4 separate regions of the Homo sapiens genome follow, and regions 1, 2 and 4 are each linked to region 3. The links come from fine-mapping of genetic effects on gene expression. A gene starts in region 3. Each other region holds a variant in brackets. All regions are shown on one strand. Distances are from middle to middle.

Region 1 (4,987 bases), 69 kb before region 3:
CCACCTCAGCTTCCCAAAGTGTTGGGATTATAGGCGTGAGCCACCGCGCCTGGTCTATGAATCAGTTCTTTCAATAAAGACTCCGCTGGGGCTGAGGGCTGCCAGATATTGGGTGTCCCTGAAGATGAAGCCAGTTGTGTCTATTGGCCTCTTCTCCAAATAGCCAAAGCAAGTGTGCTCAGTGCCCTGGAGTGGCCCAAGAGCAGGGGAATGAATAGTAAAAAATGTCTCAGGAAAACTCAGTTCTAGTTATGGTTTTTCCATTAATAGTTGAGGCTCCCAAGCTTCTCTGGGCTTCAATTTTATCATCTGTAAAAATAAAGGCATACGACTATTGGTGATTTCAAAATACCGATCTCATGTCAAGCTAGTGACTTAAAACCCCTCCAGGAGAGGTTGTTAAAGGTACACATTTCTTAGCATAAATCTGGAAACAACCGAAGTGCCCATGAGTAGGGGAGTGGTTAAATAAGTTATGGTATATCCAACCATAAATGCCCTTTGAAAAGTGTGAATTAGATCTGCATGTGCTGATACAGAAAGATCTCTAAGGAATATCATCAATTGAAAAGAGTAAAGTACAGAGCAACATATATGGCAAAATTCCTCTTGTGTAATTGAAAATGCATATATGTGTGTGTGTGTAACTGAAAATGCATATATATTTATATATAAATGCACATATATATATGGCACAAACTTGCTTTCAGTTATTGTTTATGTGGGGGTATACATGAAACTGTTAAGAGTGTTTATCTTAATAGTTTAACAGCTGTATGGGCAGGGTAATATTTAAGGTATTGCTAATAACAATAGTAATGTTAATAGTTAAGGGCTGATTCACCCCACCTATTTCTGATGTCTTCTTTTTTTGTACCCGTCAACATTTATCTACCAATGTGTTAGAACAAGAAGGGGACTTGGTACTGTGGGGAGAATACTGAATGGGCTGTAAGTGGATCCGAGTTTAAATCATATTCTTGTTGAATATTCTTGTGCAAGTAACTTAACTTCCCTGGATCTCAATGTCCTCGTCTTTTAAATGCGGTGATAGGACTAGCAATAAAACACGGTGGTTCTATTTTAATTTGCAGGTAGTGTTTATAAGTTATCTGGGGAGACACACAGGAACACACACACACACACATACATACACACACACACTCAAATACAGAACAAATGAGTAAAGAGCATTGCTAACTCTCAACAAATACTTTAAGTTCTTTCTTAACACTATGGGCTACAGAGGAGAAATAACCTTTATCCTTGAAGAATTTTATGATCTTGTATGGGAGACAAAACAAATTTGTGTGAACCAACTAGAGAATAATATAAAGCCACATATGACAACCTTGGATTAACCTCATTCTTATGGAGCTCCCTTTAAAATATTACTCACCTGAAACTCAAGAAAACCAGACTCGGCAATAAATGTAAAACCCAAGTCCCTCGGCCACATTTGCACTGAAATGTAAAATAAAGGGTTAGACAGGTACAATTTCCTTTGTAGTGATAAAATCCTCTGATTCTATTGCATAATCTCCAAAAGCAGGTCCAAACCGAATAATTTTTTTCCCCTGAAACTAGATTCCTCCCTGTTTAGTAGAGTCCCCATTTCCAATTTAGGACTTTGCCAACCCCATACAACTTCTTTGCACAAAATACCCCAAGATAAGGTCAAGGAGAAGGCCTTACATTATGTCAGCCCCATTATCTGAGCTTGAGAGCCTCCCTTGGCTCCGCCCTGTCTGGGCAATGCAGTGGGAGAGGGGACTGGGCTGGGGGTGGCCAGGTGGCTGTCTAGCCTGCCTGGTCACAAAGACCCCAGTGAGTGTGAGATGAGCACATGACAGGGGCTCCGGGCAGGTCAGACTTGACGCCTCACTTGACCCCACTGACAGCCAGAGTTTGATAAAGACATGATTGAGTTGAGGATTTCTTTCTGACAGTTTAATGGATGGCTATAATTAGGGGCCTGCTCTGAGGGTGTGGAAACACATAGACCCCATTGTAGGGAGGCTAAATGCTACAAAGGTCAAGGCCAAAATATGGTATGAAAGAAGCTCAACGTTTTCCAACACACAGGAGAAGTGAGTCAGTAGTGAAACGTGTTTACTAAGCATGATCAAGCATACCCATTTCTTTTCAGTTCCTGAGCCTGATGGTTGTCATCAGTGGTGGGTCTCTGAAGCAGAGTTTCAGTCCTTGTGGCTCCAGAGACTAGCACTCTAAAGGTGGAGTTGACAGGATAAACTTCCCACCTGATCTCAGAAAGCAACTGACTTT[C/G]TTTTCTTCTCCTGGAACCATCTCCCTGACTGAAAATAAGAATGACAACAATAACTGAGACATACACATTGAATTTTAATGTTAAATTTAAACAATATTTGTCAGTTTGTTTATGCTTCATTGTCAAAATAATGATTAATGAAAGTGGCTTTAAGCCCTAGATACTTTCTGGGATGTTTTAAAAGACTTCTTCTTGGAATAAAGGAGCCATGATGTGCCAGCCATAATAAGATCCAACTAACAACGAACAAAAAAAATACAGTGAGTAATGGCAATAATGTTCTCATTAAAGGAAAATACCTCACAACTTAGACAGAAACAGAGGGAATTAGTGAAACTCCATCCATTGAGGGCTCATAGGCTGCCCTTGGAAATACTCTTACCTGGTCACAGTACTAGTGAATTCATTTCCTGGTTAAGTTGGTAAGGTAGGCATCTTGAAAGACATTCATTAATCAAAGAATCAGATAATCCCAGGGCTGAAAAGGATTTTGGAGGCCCTAGAGTGCCAAAAGGCTGACCCACCTCTGCCGTATGGATTCTGATGAACAGAAGCTCTGACTCCTTTACACTGCCTATCCCAATCTGGGTAGCTATGAGTATTAACAAACTTGTCCCGATACAGTAGTCTCCCTTATCTGCAGTTTCACTTTCTACAGTTTTAGTTACCTGTGCTTAACCGCAGTCCAGAAATAGTAAATGGCAAATCTCAGAAATACACGTAAGTTTTAAATTGCATGCCCTTCTGAATGGCATGATAAAAATCTCATGCAGTCCTACTCCATCTCACCCAGGACGTGAATCATCCCGTTGTCTGGCATGTCCATGCTGTCTGCGCTACTCACCCATGAGTCACATAGGAGCCGTCTTGGTTATTAGATTGACTGTCATTTGTTTTGCAGTGCTTGTGTTCAAGTGACCCTTATTTTACTGAACAGTGGCTCCAAAGAACAAAAGTAGTGATGCTGGCCATTTGAACATGCCTAGGAGAAGCTGGGAAGTGCTTTCGTTAAGTGAAAAGGTGAGAGCTCTTGACTTAATAACGAAAGAATAAAAATTGCAATATTAAAGTTGCTGAGATCTACAGTGAGAATGAATTTTTTTACCTGTGAAATTGTGAAGAAGAAAAAAATTCATATAGTTTTGCTGTTGCACCCCAAACTTTATCATAGATATGTATGTATAGGAAAAAAACATAGTTGGGGTTGGTACTATCCTAGGTTTCAGGCATCCACTGGGTGTCTTGGAACATATTCCCTGTGAATAAGTGGGGACTACTGCATTGAGCTAAAATCTGTTTTTTTTTTTTGTTTGTTTGTTTTTTTAACCTCCCACTAATTGGTTCCATTCTACCAACTGGGGTCACATAGAACAAGGCTAAGTCCCTGTTACATATGTTACTAGGACTGGCTATGTAATTTGCAGGGCCCAGTGCAAAATGAGAATGTGGGGCCCATGTTAAAAATTACTAAGAATTTCAAGATGGTAACAGAGCATTAAGCCAAGGGTGGAACCCTTCTAACTGCAGAGCTCTGTGTGGCTTTACAGGTAAGCAACCCAGAAAGTTGGCGGCGTAGGGAACTTTCTGTTTTGTTTCTGAATGACTGGATTTGGTACAGTGTTAATAGAAGGAAACTATTTTTCCTCCACTTTGTGTTATAACTCTTTTTCAATTCCTTCTTCCTTCCTGCAGATCCCATGGAATATTCTGGTCTTTTGCATATATTAAAAGCCCAGTTCAATATTTTATTAAACTCCAAGCTGTCAATCACTACCTTTGCCCTGGCTGGGGCTGGGAAACTTGCAGAGACTTGCTTCTTTTCTTTGTTCTCCTGGCTGATCTACCTCCCACTCTTCATGTTGCTGTTGGCTCCTTCAGGGCTGGCCAGGGGTAGAAGGAGAAGGGCAGTGGATGGGAAAGGTCTTCCTTACTTGGTAGGCCCAGGTGTGATCCGGCGTTTAAGGGCTCTCTGAGCTGAGCACTCAAGTGCTCCTCTTTTCTTTCATGGGTACATCTCTGGGTTCTTCTAAGCTCCTCCTCTGGGGACTCTCAACTGCGGTTTTCTGGTGCAGGGATGCCTCCTTTGGCTAGAAGTTGATGACATTCGCCCAGCCCATGGCTGGTGGTTCACTGCAGTCTCCTTCTGCTGGGGTCATCCACCCTGCACTCCCTCCCTAATTCCAGTGGTCCTCTTGGATAGAGTTTTCAAACTGCCTCATGCTGGTCTCTTCCTCAGGATTCACATGTGGACCTTGAGAAACATGTGTTTTTGCGCTGCCGTTTGCATAGCTCCCTTCAGTCTGCCAGCACAGCTTCTACTCCCTGCCCACAGCCAGAAACTCCCTCCTTCAGATTTTCTTCCAAGTAAGTGTGACTCAGATACCAGTTCCAGAATCTGCCCCAATTCCAAGGAATATATGGCAAGCCTGTTAGAGGTTCTTTGAAACTCATCTCAGTTGGCCTGAGTAGTGGAGGATTAGGAGGGCATTTCAGCATACAACTTTCTTTACTTTTTTTTTTAGGCAGAATTTTGCTCTGTTGCCCAGGCTGGAGTGCAATGGTGCAATCATGGCTCACTGCAGCCTCAATCTTCTAGACTCAAGCAGTCTTCCCATCTCAGCCTTCCCATCTCAGGTCCTGAGTAGCTGGGACCAAAGGCATGTACCACCACACCTGGCTGATTTTTTTTTTTTTTTTTTT
Region 2 (4,987 bases), 19 kb before region 3:
GGAATGTCCTTGATTATGTAACAGGTTGATAAGATTCCTAACATCGGGGCTATTCAGCACTGACAATCTCCATCTTAGTGAATACATAATGTATAAGATTTTAGGATCACAGGAGACCCTGAATATAGGTCCAAGTAGTTTATACAGAATATTAACAAAATTCTTGCAATTCAGATGTCTAGCTGGTCTCATCACCACAGACTCTGTTCTGCTCACTCTGTTCTGAATGAATCAGCTCCAGCACTGAATTTTTAACGGGTGGGATCCACTCAAAGGGGCAACTTCTGGTCATCCACACCACTCAGAGAAGCAAGCATATGCTGAAGACGCATTAGAGCAGAAGGAAGAAGGGTGAAAGATCAAAGAAACAGGGCTTATCTAAAAGTCACTGGCACTAAGGAGTAGGCAGATAAGTGGCCTCTAAACCGTAGAGCAAGCCAGGGAATGGCTTCAATATACTGTATCAACATCACGGCAGGGGACCTATAACTGCAAAACAAACAGGTCTTCCTCAAAGGACAGTGAATGGTATTGTTTAACCTGCAGCGCCACCTGGTGCCCATAGAGAGAATTCCTGTGCCCACGCCATGCAGCAGCAGTTTGGTAGGCTTTTTGTCACCTATTTGAAACAATAAAAGCAACACACATTCAGAAAGAAGCTGGCTAAAAATATTCCAGGTTGCTTTTTATTTGAAAGTAGAATGCCCCTCCTCCTGTTTTAAAAATGTCTTAGTGTCTAGAATATTATTTAGCCTAAACCAGTCTAAATGACACCTATCTCACAAGATCTAGCTGTTATACCTTCCTCTATAAAGCCTCTCTAACATTTACCTCTAAATTATCTCTTATCCCCCCAAAGAACTTCATGCACTAGGCTATGATTTCTATTTCGACAGTAACAGACAAAGGAAGTTAAGTGGTTTGTTCTAAGTCACATAGCCTCAAAGCAAGATCTGATTTCAGATCTGACTTCAAAGTCCAAGTTCTTGCTTTCCATGTGGAAGGAAAGAGGTGGAGAAAGTACAACAGCAGGAGATGCTTCCAGAGAGGGCAGGCTCGGTGGGGCTTCATACTGGGAGGCCCAGGTTGTGGAGGGGCGCTGCACTCTTTGGAAAGGAGAGAGCCATTAGAATGGGAGATGGCCTGAAGGGCCCCCAAACCTCTTTGCTTAGGCCGTACCATGGCTCTGGGAATCAGAATTCCCCAATTAACTGAAGATCTGGGTATGCCCTGTGTGGAGGGAATGAAAGACTCAGTTTCCATTTTGCTTCTGGTCCCCCAGCACTGTTGAGGAAACCCTAAGATTCTTAATAGTGATAAGCAGAGGGACTGCCTCCAGTAGAATGACGTGTGATCTTCTGTGTTCATTTATTTGACACAAATTTACTAGGTGCCTTCTATGCATGGGGCTGGGTGTTGAAGATATAATGGTAAATAAGACGCAGTCCCTGCCCTCAGGATGCTGACATACATTCTAAAGCTGTCATCAAAATGTCAAAATCTTAGGTTCCTGTTTGCAGTCACAGATGGGCAAGAGATGCCAAGAACCTGACTTGGAAAAAAAGGCTCTGAGGTTTAAATACCTCATGATATTCTGTTTTTTGTTAACTTTTACAATGAGCAATTTTGTACCTCTATTTGAGTATATGAGACTTCAAGAGCACACACACACAGAAATGCAAATGCAATGCTCAGGCACACGGCTGTCAGCTGCCATCCACCTGCTACAATCTCAAAGATATATTCCAGTAGAGACTGTCACTATGTGACAGGAAAGCCATGATGTCTTCATCCTAAGATGGGTGTAGAATAAGTGATACCCAAGAAATATGACAGGCAGACCACTCATATGACAGGGGAAACTGCTAGGGCCCATCCTGGCCCAGTCTATAGAAGTCAAGAGCTTCCCTTTGGCATGGCCTAATGGAAGAGGCCTGGGACAAGCAGTACTCCTTCCCAGGGAGCCACAGTACAATCTGAGCAAAGCCATCAATGAGAAAAATTAATTTCAGCACCTCTAAAAACAGCCCAAGCCAATGACTGGAGAGCCAGAAAATAAGCGAGAATTCTGAAGACTGAGCTTGAGTTAATTTTGTATGTGGGGGTCTTGCAAAAGTATGCGTATTTCTAGAAAAGCTGTGCATAGGAAGAGATGGGGTATAAGACATAGCCAGGCATCAGAGCTGAACTGGAAGAAAAAGTTACACAGCAAAGGAAAAAACTGTAATCTATGCTTCCTGAGAAACTCTGAGTCTTAACGTTGATAATCTTTTCCTGAT[T/C]GTGAATAGCATATAAATAGAGATAGCTAAGAGACAATCTCTGGCTCAGAAGTGCTTTAAAAATAAAATCAGAATATGCAGACAAAAATAATTTATATGCTACCATCAGATGCGTGTGTCCCTGAGACCAGCTGGATGGAAAGCAAGAGAGGCTAGATGGGAATACGGCAAGGGAACTTTCAGGTGAACCCAGTTCTAGTGGCCACTGCTTTGTGGGAAAGCTTGCATGGAGGGGAAGCATGGCAGAGCAGTGGGAAACACATGAGCTCTGAGGCCAGGATGACTTAAGTGGAATCTTAAGGTGTGGTTGTTACGACTTTTATGATTTTGGGAACGTTATTTTATCTGAATGTAATTTTCTTCACTTATGAAATGTAGAACTACATGTCTATCTCATAGAATTGAACATTAATATAAACAGTACATAGCTGCTTTCCTGGTATTAATATTGTAATAAGCGTCAGTTCCTTTCCCATTGCAATTACTCGTGCACTTTTGGTGGCAGACCTGGAGGTTCTCTTAAGAAATAACCAATGTCACAAAGAACTGTTATCCACCTGCTAGTTAGACATGCCCACCAAGAAAGAGGCCCTTGAAGTAGAGTTCCACAGAAAGCGCCTTGATTCTGGAGCGTTCTAAGAGAACAGTGGAAGCAAGAGGGTTCATGGTCAACCTTTCCCAACTGTCCTTAGGGGAGGTGGACGTTGCGCCTTGCAGCACAGCACTCTCCAGTGCTCCCAGACTCTGCCGCAGCTCTCCTGACCTTTCCTAGGAGATGGTTTAGAGAGAGACATCTTCTCTAAGAAAGTGATTCCAAGGTCTGGTGTAAGGTCTAGAGCTTGCCATCAAGTTTCTCCTGGGTGCCCTGCTTGTTGGACTCCTTAAACCTGCACACCCTTTCTTTTCTTCTTCCTCTCTGGATACTTCCTAACTTTACACACTTCACGCTCCCCTCTGCCAGAACCTTTCCCCCTGGCTTTCTGCCAAGCCATTCCATTCCCACATGCCCCCAACACTCACACACACACACTCTGTCTCTATCTTACACACACACACACAGACACACACACACACACTCCCTTTTTAACTGAGAAATCCTGACGCAGATGCCAGGAATGTGTCTGCTGCCCTTTTGACACAGGTCTGATGCCATCGTTGGGGCCATGGGGAGGGCAGCGCCGCGGACGTGGCATTCACGCATTCTGCTGCTGGCATGGTTCCTATTTTTATCGTGGCATTGCTCTGGGTGTCCAGGCAGGGCGCCGGTCCAGCTTCTCATTCCTTCACTTTCCATCAGGACTCCACACCAATCCTACCCCTTACCTTGGCTGGATCTTCCTGCCCCAAACCCCCTACCATCAATGCAGCACAGTGTATCTCTCCTCTTTCCCTCCAACCCAGTCTAACTCTGAGTACTTGCCCAGTTTGCTAAATCTGATTCTGATGTTTGCAGAGATATTTTCAAGTTTCTTCTGTTTTCGGGCATGAGCAGAGTTTGCACAAGCCGGATTTGCTCCTTGGCTCAGAGTGCTACCCGCTCTCCCCTTCCCCTCCCTTTGTCTCTCATTCCAAATAAGGAGTGCTTCTTGTTACATAATTGGATGTTCCCAGCACAGAAGCTGACACATGAGGTTAGGCGCACATGCATGCAAGACTTCCCTTTGACTTAACAATGCCTTTTTTGGGCATCTAACTTCTCTTCAGCTCCCCTCCCACTTCTCTCCACATCATCAACAATCAACGGAGATTTATAAGCCTGGCTCAGATCAGAGCTCTTCCAACTTTGGCTTAGAAGGAGGGGTTATGAGGTCGAACTTACTCTGTTTTTTTTTTTTCCTTTGCAGGATAGAGAGTGTGCTTATAATTTGACAGAAGTCTATGGCGTCCAAGGCAGTAATGTACACAGGTCTTTTAAAGTTGCAAGATGGGTATACAAAGTTGGAAGCAGAGGAATAAACTTGCCTGCTTGGGGATAATAATACTGGAGGTTGGAACATGAGGACATTTTAAGGAGGAGATGCACTCAAATCTGGTGACTACAGCATCCCTGATGGTCAAACTGCAGTGAGTTCTAAATAACTAGAGAAGTGGCAGTACCACGTGTGGCACCAACACCAACTATCCTGCTCTTTTAAGCACGGAACTTAAAGGAAGAGAACCCAAGTACCCTGCAAAAGCATATGGCTCAGCTACCCGTGGTTTCAGGGAGGACAAACATGTAGCCTCCTAGGCAGCAGTCATGGGGATGGGAGGCAACGGGACCTCATATCATGCCTCTTGTGGGAGATGCAGGGGGTACAGTGGAGAGGTGCTGCAGCTCTGGAGATGTCAAGTTTCCAGCATATTGGCTTACCAAAGCAAATAAAGCTGAAGCATGCAGCAATGCATACACCACTTTTTAAAATTAAAACCTGCAACTGTCCCAGGGATAGTAACATGGGCTGTCTTTAGACTGCAGCACTGCCCTTAGGTTAGCTGCAAGTGTGTAGATACGGAGATGCAGTTTGGATTCTACAAACTGCCTGATAATCTCCAGTACTTGGAGACAGAGATTTTTGGGTTGGCTTTTATCCTGCTGAATTGCAGGGCAAAGATCTGATCCTGAAATTTAGACAATCATCACAGCTATAAATCAGAAAAACCTGGGTTCAAATTCTGCTTGTGATATTTATTAACCCTGTGATTTTGACTAGATAACCCACATTCTT
Region 3 (4,987 bases):
ACTTCCATTCCGTCTTACTTGAAAATGTCATAATGTTACTTTCTAAAATGCTATGTCATGATGCAGCTGTGTTGAGCAGATCAAGGAAGGTCTTTTCCCTCTTAGTTGGATTGGGAGTTCGGAGGAGTGTAGCAAGCAGGCTGTCCCTGGTGGTAGCTTGTGGACTCAAATGAGAGAAATTCAAGTGTGGAAGGCAAGTAAAATCCAATGGGTAGGATCTTGTCCAAGAATTTTCTTTCTCAACTTCTTCCCTGCTGATTTCTTTTTCAAAATACTGGTACATTTTGTACTTTGTTTTAGGAAGGTAGGTTATTTACCTATGTCTATCTCAGAAGATAGCAAGTTTTTGACTCTTGGAGGTGTGTAAGCAGACTTGGGAACAACTTGACAAGAGATAACATGAAGAGGGTTGGTTGGATTAGAGAGGCAATTCCCCAAGATGGCCTTAGGACAGGCTGACTCTATGTTATCTGGAGAGTTCTATTTGAAAATAAATAAAATACAGAATCCAGGGACCCCCTCCTTAGAAATTCTCATACAGAATCCAACAGAGTCTGTCAGAATCTGTATATCTGAAAGGCAGCTCAAGTGATTTTGAGGTGCAGCCAAGTTTGGGAACCACTGAAAATATAACCCTCAGCATTCTAGCAGCCCTGAGGTTCCAGGATTGCTTGTGTGAGTACAGGATAAACGCTACTCTGCCTTACATATTAGCTTCAGACCATTCACAGAGATAGATGCCTATTGAAAGAACCACTTCAAACTAACAGCATCTCTCCCCCAAGAACATTTGCTTCATGACTGCTTTCCAAACCCACTCCTAGCCCGGGTGAGCACCCACAGCTTTAATCCTGTTACCTTCACAGTATAGAGTGTGTATGGGTGGAATCCAGTGCCACTGTGCTCTCGGGCTGTAATGGTGCCAGTGATACGAAGGTTCTGGATGATAACTGGACCATCGGGACTGCTTAGGGGCTCAAAGCTGAAGGTGGCTGAGCTGAGAGGACCAGGTGGAGAGGAGGAAAGCAGAACTGGTGGCAGAGTAGGATCAAGGGAGCTCACATCATTGGTGAGATCCTTCTCTAAGCATGACGGCCGTGAGGGGCAGGTCTTTTCTGGCCCCTCCAGCAAAGCTGTAACAGAGGCGGTAACATCTCCTTGTTCTATCTCCTTGTCTGCTGTGTCAATATGGATCTCTGGGCAGGAATTCAGTGTGGAGACCGGCAGGCCTGTCTCTGTTTCTGTCCCTGGACCCTCCTCAGCCTCTGCTCCTTCAGATGCCTCACCATCTTTGGGTTCCAGAGCCTGGGAACTCTCTAGGGCACACAGGGCATCCTGAATCCTGTCAGAGAGAAAGCTGCCTGGAGTCATGAGCATGATGGTTTCTTTGCCCAGTTCAGACAGCGGAGACTCCAGCTCTGAGTCTTCACATAAGAACAGGGGACCTCGAACATTTGGCTGTAGGAAATGAGATGAGTTGTTTCCTACTTTTCTTTCTTCACACATCCCACCCAAATCTCCCTCTACAGCTTCGTGGCCTTCTTCAACCTCTGGAGAGGGGCCTGCAGAACCCTCTGGCTCACTGTAACTTAGGAATACTGGGGCTGCTACTGGAGAAGCTCTCCCTTCTGGAAGCTGCTCTACCTCAGCAATCAGTGGCAGAGATGTCGGCACTGAGGGCTGTTCGGGGGCACTGGCTGGGCAGGGTGCTGGATCTCTGGCCTTGGAAAAGATACCCACGAGTACAAGGTGGATCCAGTCAGGATCTGACAGCCTGCTGATCAGTGGTAAGATTACATTGCATGTGATGAGTTCGACCACTACATGGCGTCCGGTACGAGTCTCCAAGTGGGGCTTGGGCACCAGCCCTTGAAGCAACAAATTCACAACGCCACGCGTATAGGTGACTTCAGCACTGGGGCTGTGCACAGCAGGATGTGGGGCAGTCGCCCGGCAGTAAGCCTCCCAGAGGTGGGAAGGCTCAACTGGACCATTCTTCCCTGCAGTGGCCTCCTTTGCCTGAATGTAGCTCTGCAGGTGACAACCGCAGAGAGTCAGAACACTCTGGGCAACAGCATGACTGTCCATCACGCTCATCCTTCTCCGAAGCTCCTGGACCAACCCTTTCATGGCTGCCTCCATTTCTTCCTCAAAGGCTGGCTCCTGGCTCACGGAACGGTACCAAGATAACACAAAATCTCGAATAATCATCTGGATGGTGCGGTTGATCTCCCGTTCCAGCTGCCTTTCTGCCTCAGGGCATGGAGGACAGGTGGCCAACGGGATGAAGCGTTCCAGATGCAGTCGACCTGAAGCCACTCCAGCGAGGCTGGAGCCCAGCCATCCTCCCAGCACCACTAGCAATGCCGACAGAAGGCACAGCAGCCACACGTTGACCAGAAGGTGTATGACCAGGAGCCAGCCAAGCAAGACCCCCACAGCCATCAGCTTCCGGCTACTCAACAGGTTATTGAGGTGACAGCTCGATCCAGCTGGAGTTTCCTGGAACGGTGGCACTGTTTCTGTCTTCATGGCTGAACGGACAAGGTGGCTTCCCCAGATGACAGCCCTCAAGATTTTACTTCAGAGTTAGGGAAGGGGGGCATGAACTGTGTCTCAGATATGGGGCGATCTGGGTGCTGTTCAGGGAACCGGGGCTCCAGGCCCTCAAAGTCCTACAGGCACTGCAAAGCGACAGCTGCAGCTCCGCGTCTCCCCATGGCTACCACTAACAGAGCCCTCCAACTCGCCCCTTCCAGCTGAGGTGTGGCTTTGGAGGAAAACTCTGTGGCCTTCACACTGCCCCAGGCGGAAGGCCTCTTCGGGGCCTCGGGGCGGGCGCTGCAAGGCCCTGGGGCCCACGGACACTTACACACGCAGCGGGCAGCGGCCGGCGAAGACTGGGTCACACGCCGCCGGGAACCGCGCGCCCACACTCAGCCCCGACCTGAAGTGGACTCATCGCGGTCCTCTCCGGGAGCCTCGGCCCTCTGCCGCCGTAAACCTGGGCGACTGCGCTCCGCAGCCGGGCCTGTGTGAAGGCTGACCGCCGGCCGGCCGCCGGCGACAGCTTCCGGGTCGACGTCGACGGGAGCGAGGCATGCTGGGAGAGCGTCCGCGCGCGCCCCGAGGAGCGGCGCTGCCCGGCGCCCTCTGCTGGCGAGGAGCCGCCCTGACGGCCCTGCGCGAGGTAGTCTCTGAGCCTGAGCGTGAGCCTGAGCGCGCACGGGGCGCGTGCTCGCCAAGAGCTGGCGCAGATTTCCGAAGTGCCACGAAACAGCCGCCGCAGCAATCACCGCTAAGACCCAGACTTCCAGGCGCTTTAAAACGCGTCCTAGTTCTGGTTATTAAATGAAGCCTGTCCTTTACTGCTTAGGCACGCTGTCAATAATCCGGTTTATTTTAATTTCATGGAGGCGAAGTTTCATTGGCCTGATGTGTCTTAACATTTATCCGGTTTCCCCTAGAGCCGGTACCCCGCGTCCCCAGCACAAAGACCCTCATTTGTTGTCAGGAATTGCAGAATATAAGGCATGAAACGATACAGAGATAGATTTATGTTGTACATTTCATATACTGTATCACAAAATCAAATTTGTGATTGAGGGTTATTTGCTGGTGGCATTACACAAACAATCAAATATTTTGAGCATCTGCTGTCTTCAATGTGAGAGGCAGCGTGGACGAATAGAAGCAGACCTTGTCCTCCAGGACCTCCTGCTAACTGGGGATGCCAGCGCTTTGAACGCGATTGGCTATCTAGTAATGCCAGTCAGCGTGCGATATAGTAAAATACAAAATCTTATAGGAATTCAGGGGAAGGAGAGATCACTGTGGGTTGCAATGGTTAAGGAGAAGCTCACAGAAAAGGTGCCTTTCTGCTGAGTCTTCAAGGATGAGGGTTTCTATTTCCCTCTATCTCTTCTCGCCTTATCCTCCCCAAAAACATAGAAAAGGAAAGCAGAGATAGAGGTGTCCTTTCAGATAATCCTGTAATATATTTGCTTTGGAATATGCTCTATGTTGGATTGTTTTTGGTTTTAGCAAATTAGACTTCACTTGTCTACACAGGAACCTATAGGAAGACAAAATACCGGAAGCACTGACCAGGTGTCAAAAGTGTTAGTGTCAGTTTTGCGTGAAGCCAGCTTCCATGTCCACCTTGGGCCCTAGGAGCTGTGCCCGCAGGGTGGGTCTCCTTTCCATTTAGGCATAGGATTCGCATCGTTTGCACAGAGCTGCTCATGGTTGCCCTTCGTCCACCTTCTCTGTGCTGTGAGCAGTCTTTCATCATCATGGACTACTCCCTAGATGTTTAAAGGAATCTTCAAACAAATCCCAACCCAAAACTCTGCCAACAAGAAGTGCGTTGCAGCTTCCTGTCTCGTCCATTGCTGCTGTTGGGGCAGAGACTTCCTTTGAATACGAAAGAAGCCATCATTTAGATGTGACCCGTAGTTTACGATTCATCACTTCTAAAGCAAATGGTTTGATTTAGGATCAGTGTCCACTAAGCAGACTGGGCACTCCCGTGAGATGGCAGAATGTGAATCCACGGTTTCACGGTCCATACCTTTTCACTGCTGCCTGCCTTCCCGCAGAAAAGGAACCCGAGAAGTGGGCTCTGCCCCTCTACCTTCCCAGACCATTCTAATGTCCTCAGGAGCACTTAGAAAATGGCAACAATGCTCTGGAGAAAAGTCCCTGCCACCTAGTTGGGAGCTAAAACAGAAATGTGAATGATGAAGGGACTACCGACGGTGCTGAAGACTTCCTGTGGCAGTTCAAAGAGAAAGTTTACTTGGCAGCATAATCTGGAGTGTTCAGGGCAGTAAGGAAGTGACCTTGCAAGTGGGCGCTATGCCACCTGACCAGATGGTCTGGAGCATCAAGGTAGCCAAGAGTGCCTTCCTGATTCTGAAGCGGGTTTGATGGACATGCCCGTGCACTTGTCATTTGGACGGGTGTGAGCTCCTGCCTGGGGGTC
Region 4 (4,987 bases), 40 kb before region 3:
TACCCATTCTCTGCTTCTTCCTTGCTAACATCAATTATTTCTGTAGATATCTGACCTTCATGGAAGATGACCTCATCTCTGGGGGAAAATACTATTGAAAGCCAATCACAATGCCATTCTCAGTGTCAGTGGATTGGCATGAGGTGGGTGGTTCTAGCCAATGAGTCATAAGAGGTTTTTTGTTTTTTTTTTTTTTATTTGGGGTCTCACTCTGTCACTTAAGGCTAGAATGCAGTGGTGTGATCGTAGCTCACTGCAGCCTCAAATTCCTGGGCTCAAGTGATCCTCCTGCCTCAGCCTCCCTAGTAGGTGGAACCACAGGCGAGAGCCACCATGCCCCGCTCATTTTTTATATTTTTTGTAGAGACAGGGTCTTGCTATGTTCCAGGCTGGTCTTAAACTCCTGGACTCAAACAATCCCCCAACCTTGGCCTCCCAAAGTGTTGAGATTATAGGTGTGAGCCGCTGTGCCCGGCCTAGAAGAGGATTCTTGAAGGACTTCTGGGAAATGGTTCCTTCATTCCTTAGAAGAAAACACAGAAGAGATGCTCCTGTTCTTTTATGAATGTTATCTCTGGGTGTGATGCCTGAAACTGCAGCAGCAGGAAGGCAGGCAGTCTGAGAGCACAGCTGACCTAATTAGAATGGCAAGGAAGAAAGATGGAAAGAATTCAGGCCCCTTAAGAGGTCTCAGAGTTGCTGAATCACCAAACTCCTGGGCTTACCTACTCACGTACTAATGTTATGAAATAAAATAAATTTTCCTCATAATTTAATTCTTGTCCAGAGCATCCTGATTCATATAGCCAGGGACCATAGTTACACATATTTTTACTTCCTCCAGGACCTAACAACTGGTGTTGTGTGCTATGAGCAAAGGAAGAGCAGTAGCTGGAAATGAATAACCTGGGTAGGACACAGGAAGACTCAAAAATGTTCTAGGCTATGCAAATCAAAACCATGAGATAGTAATATCACCTAATACCTTTTAAGATGCCATTATGAAAAAACAAAACATTACAAGTGTTGGAGAGGATGTGGAGAAACTGGAACCCTTGTACATTGTTGGTGGGAATGTAAAATGGTCTAGTCACTATGGAAAACAGTATGAAGGTCTTCAAAGAATTAAAAACAGAACAATATATGATCCAGCAATCCTACTTCTGGGTATTTATCTAAAATAATTAAAAGCAGGGCCTCGAAGAAACAGTCACACTCCCATGTTCACTGCAGCATTGTTTTCAACAATCAAGGCGCGGAGCCAACCTAAATGTCCCTCAATGAATGAACAAAGAAAATGTGGCATAGCCATACAATGGAATGTTTTCAGCCTTAAAAAGAAAATTCTGTCACATGCTGTAACGTGGATGAACCTGGAGGACATTATGCTAAGTGAAATAAGCCAGTCAAAGGACAAACACTGCATGATTCCACTTATATGAGGCGTTCAAAGTAGTCAAACTCACAGAAGCAGAAAGTAGAACAGTGATTGCCAGAGGCTGGTGGGAGGGGAAACGAGGAGTGGCTGTTCAATGGGTATAAACTTTTGGTTATGCAAGATGAAAAACTTGTAGCAGTCTGCTACAAAGCACTGTGCTGCTTCTAGTTAATAATGTACCGTCTCAAAATAAATAAATAATGTACTGTACACTTAAGAGGGTAGATCTCACATTATGTGTTTCTTTACAACAATAAGAAAATCACCTTGTAAACTGGAAATTTCCAAAATGGAAATTGGAGTAGCTTGTATTGATTTTAAAATTTATACATGCTCTCACTCATAGGTGGGAATTGAACAATGAGAACACTTGGACACAGGAAGGTGAACATCACACACTGGGGCCTGTTGTGAGGTCGGGGGAGGGGGAAGGGATAGCATCAGGAGATATACCTAATGTAAATGACGAGTTAACGGGTGCAGCACACCAACACGGCACATGTATACATATGCAACAAACCTGCATGTTGTGCACATGTTCCCTAGAACTTAATGTATAATAATAATAAAAATAAAATTTATACATGCTCCTAGGCTCAGATTTAGGAATTTATTTTCCATTTAGGTTTTATTAAGTCTAATCCAACAATGCAAAAATGAAACTGTGAGTTATATGTGATGAAAAAGTATAGCTTTCTTGAATTCAAATAAGCAATGGCAAAGATCACATTTAGAATTTGACAGAAAGAACACAGCATCCCTGCCTCGTCTTTTTTATAGATAGTAAGAAAAGGGAAAGTAGTCTTATTTCAAATATCAAAATTCTGACTTAAATGAATAAAATTTAGTCACGAGTAAATACAAAAAACAAGCAAACAATAAAACCTTCCTGGATCAGCACAGGCCCAATTCTTCCCTGCCTTTTATCACCCTGTCAGCTGGGAGTATCTTTTCTACCTGTGGCTCTCTACCAATTGTTACTCTCTTGTTGTCTGAACCTGCTAGCCAAACTTGGCAGGTCGTTTTCAAAGCCAGATGAGTTCTGATTGTTCCCTTGGCAATATCCATTATTTCCCTCCTGGGTAGAAGGAGGATCTGAGGACAGCTTATCTTTTTGGGGTACGTGGAGTAGAGGTGGGGACTCTTATATAATACGAAATAAAAATAAGTTCTTTGGGCTGGAAGTGTCAAAAGATTCCTTAGAATTTATAGCCACAGGGATTTCATGGTGTGTCTGATGTACTGATTTTGTGCCACATTTGAGCCAGAACTGGCAGCAGATTCAAAGCAACACAGGTGGCTAAGTACACATGAGGGGAAGGTAGGTATGGGGAGAGAAAAGTGGCATAAAACAAGGCTGTCCCCCTATGCTCATCGAGAATAGGATCTTAGCCCTCACTGAAGGAGCTTAATGATCAGCTCTAATACATTGGCTGGACTCCTGCAGGTACTCA[C/T]GGAAAGTAGAGATGCTGAGCTACCTTTTCTTGTCAAAGTCTAGGGCTGGAGATGCTTCAAGAACTTTGGAGCCATAAAGTCACTGTAATGGTCAACTTTTAAGGCTAGAAGAGGCCATGAGACATCTCATTCATCTCCTTGCCTTTGGGCAAGAATTGCACACCTAAGCCTCCCGAATACATCAGACACAATTTAGGGTTAAAAGCCTCCAGAGGGGCAAAAAAGTAAAAAGATTTTACAACTTTCTTCCACAAACCACTTTAATTGTGTGCTCATCACCGACTTCAGAATCTAAGAGAACTTTGACACTTGTTTTTGACACCCCATTGCCTTCTCATCAGTCTAACTCCAAGACCTTCCTCCGAGTGGTAGGCTCTGGTAATTCAGCGAAAGCAAGGCGCTAACAGGCGAGTGTGAAGCCAAAGGGCTCCCAGTGACATCCTTGACATCTTTTTGCCAGCTATTCACATGCATTTAATATACAGCACTTCCCTGTGACTGTCTGCAGCCTTTTCTACCAGCAATTCCTCCTGATTTATCCTTCTCCAGCAATTCCCAGTTGCCTTGCCTTTCTAATAGATGTTGCAGTCTGACAAAACACCTTTGCCTTCATGCTGGTGTTGTTAAAGGACTGATTATAACCGTAAGGAATGGGAAATAAGAAGCTATTCCTTGTAAGTTTGCTAATCTTATCTGTTCAGAATAATAAAAGTTCTCTGTCAAAGACTTAGGAAGGGAGATTTCATCCCCCAGCCTTGCTAGTCCTACTCTTTGTGCATTCTTAAGACAGGAGGCAAGTGCTTTCCATTCTCCTTGGAAAAACTGAGGCTGAATATGCAGCTTGTCATGCAGTTTTGCTGAAGACAGAGAGAGGGTCAAAAATTCAAAAACTCAATTGCTCTAGGGCAGGGGGTTGGGAGCAAAGCCAATAAATAAAATGGGTGGTATAAATGCCTTTCAGGAAAGGGTGTGAAGGGTGGGGTGGATTTACCAGAAGCTTTGGCAGTCAGCTTTGAAGTCTTCTGGAAAGGAAAGTGTAGCCTCCCAGGCAAGCAGCCTCATGACATCTTCCATAAGGCTGATGTGTTGGGAAACAGCAACACATGAGCAAGAAGTTCCTTGAAAAATTTTCTTCCCTCCTTCTTCTTCTGGAACTGTTGGGAAACTAGATTAGACCCAGGAGTCTGGTTTTTGAGAATGGCCCTGAATGAATTTTTAGTTTCCGGGTAGGAACAGAGAGCTGAGAAGGTTGTTTTCTCCTCCAAGGAAATCTGGCCACAGTTTTTTTCCTGTTCTATCTAGAGCTTGTGTGCTGGTGGATTAAGCACATGTGTGCACAGGGCCAGGATTCTGGCAAACAATCTCAGGGAGGATGGCAAAAGGAGAAGCAAAAGGGGTTCATTCCTCTACCTCACAGCTTCTTTTCCCAAAGGAAACAGGATCTACTCACCAGCAACAATCCCAACATCACAAAAGGAACAGGGAAATAAACGTGCATACAACTGGGACACACAGACCCCTGTCACCTGCTACAAATGGAGCAGAAGTGGGAGAGAAGTGAGCCACCGAGAACCTAGGCCTTCTTAGCTGTAGCCTACTTGAAGAGGGCACGGGCTTCCTGACTGGTCTCTGGTGGCCGAGTAACTCTACTTCCCTGACCTGGGAAGAAGGCGTGAATAACCAGCTAAGAGGAGACACCCATCCTCTTAGAGTTGCCTGGGGTATCTGAGGCAGAGGTGGTAGCAGCAGACTCCTCAACAGAGGCACTGAGATCCAAGAATTCCAGGATGATGTCCCCAAGGCAGTAAATCAAATGCCTGAAACGAATGGACAAAAAACTTAGGGTCTGGCTCAATCAGGAAACACAAGATCCTGTTTATGACATTTATTTTCTCCTCCCCCATCACCGACACCCTAAACTTCAATAGCTTGATGAAACCTCTGCCATGAAATTAATGTTTTTTGAACTAATAAAGCCTCTGACCCTAATAAAGGCAAGAACAGTTTTTATATAAGACTAGTTTTATATAAGACTAAGTTTTATAAAATTCCATTTCTCTTTACATAGTTACATTAGCACTGCTCTGAAGAACT

What was found. PIP is the estimated chance that this variant, and not a neighbour inherited with it, causes the effect.
Region 1: its variant is fine-mapped to the expression of SNX19 in atrial appendage (GTEx, PIP 0.95).
Region 2: its variant is fine-mapped to the expression of SNX19 in whole blood (TOPMed, PIP above 0.99).
Region 4: its variant is fine-mapped to the expression of SNX19 in whole blood (INTERVAL, PIP above 0.99).

Annotation. Positions count from the first base shown.
Region 1 is chr11:130,844,728-130,849,714 of GRCh38, forward strand. LINC02551 (long intergenic non-protein coding RNA 2551) reads right to left here. Exons shown (of 6, transcript NR_125383.1): 4 at 2,136-2,315; 5 at 1,400-1,464; 6 at 1-309. Among named protein-coding and RNA genes, the nearest start is that of LINC02551, 15 kb to the right of the region's middle. The variant C/G (reference allele first, on the strand shown) is at 2,287.
Region 2 is chr11:130,894,051-130,899,037 of GRCh38, forward strand. All of the region lies in intron 8 of SNX19 (sorting nexin 19), which reads right to left. Among named protein-coding and RNA genes, the nearest start is that of SNX19, 20 kb to the right of the region's middle. The variant T/C (reference allele first, on the strand shown) is at 2,280.
Region 3 is chr11:130,913,408-130,918,394 of GRCh38, forward strand. SNX19 (sorting nexin 19) reads right to left here and starts at 3,072. Exons shown (of 11, transcript NM_014758.3): 1 at 859-3,072. The coding sequence starts at 2,532. RefSeq lists an enhancer at 2,815-2,864 and a silencer at 2,985-3,264.
Region 4 is chr11:130,873,845-130,878,831 of GRCh38, forward strand. SNX19 (sorting nexin 19) reads right to left here. Exons shown (of 11, transcript NM_014758.3): 11 at 1-4,710. The coding sequence ends at 4,578. Among named protein-coding and RNA genes, the nearest start is that of LINC02551, 14 kb to the left of the region's middle. The variant C/T (reference allele first, on the strand shown) is at 2,893.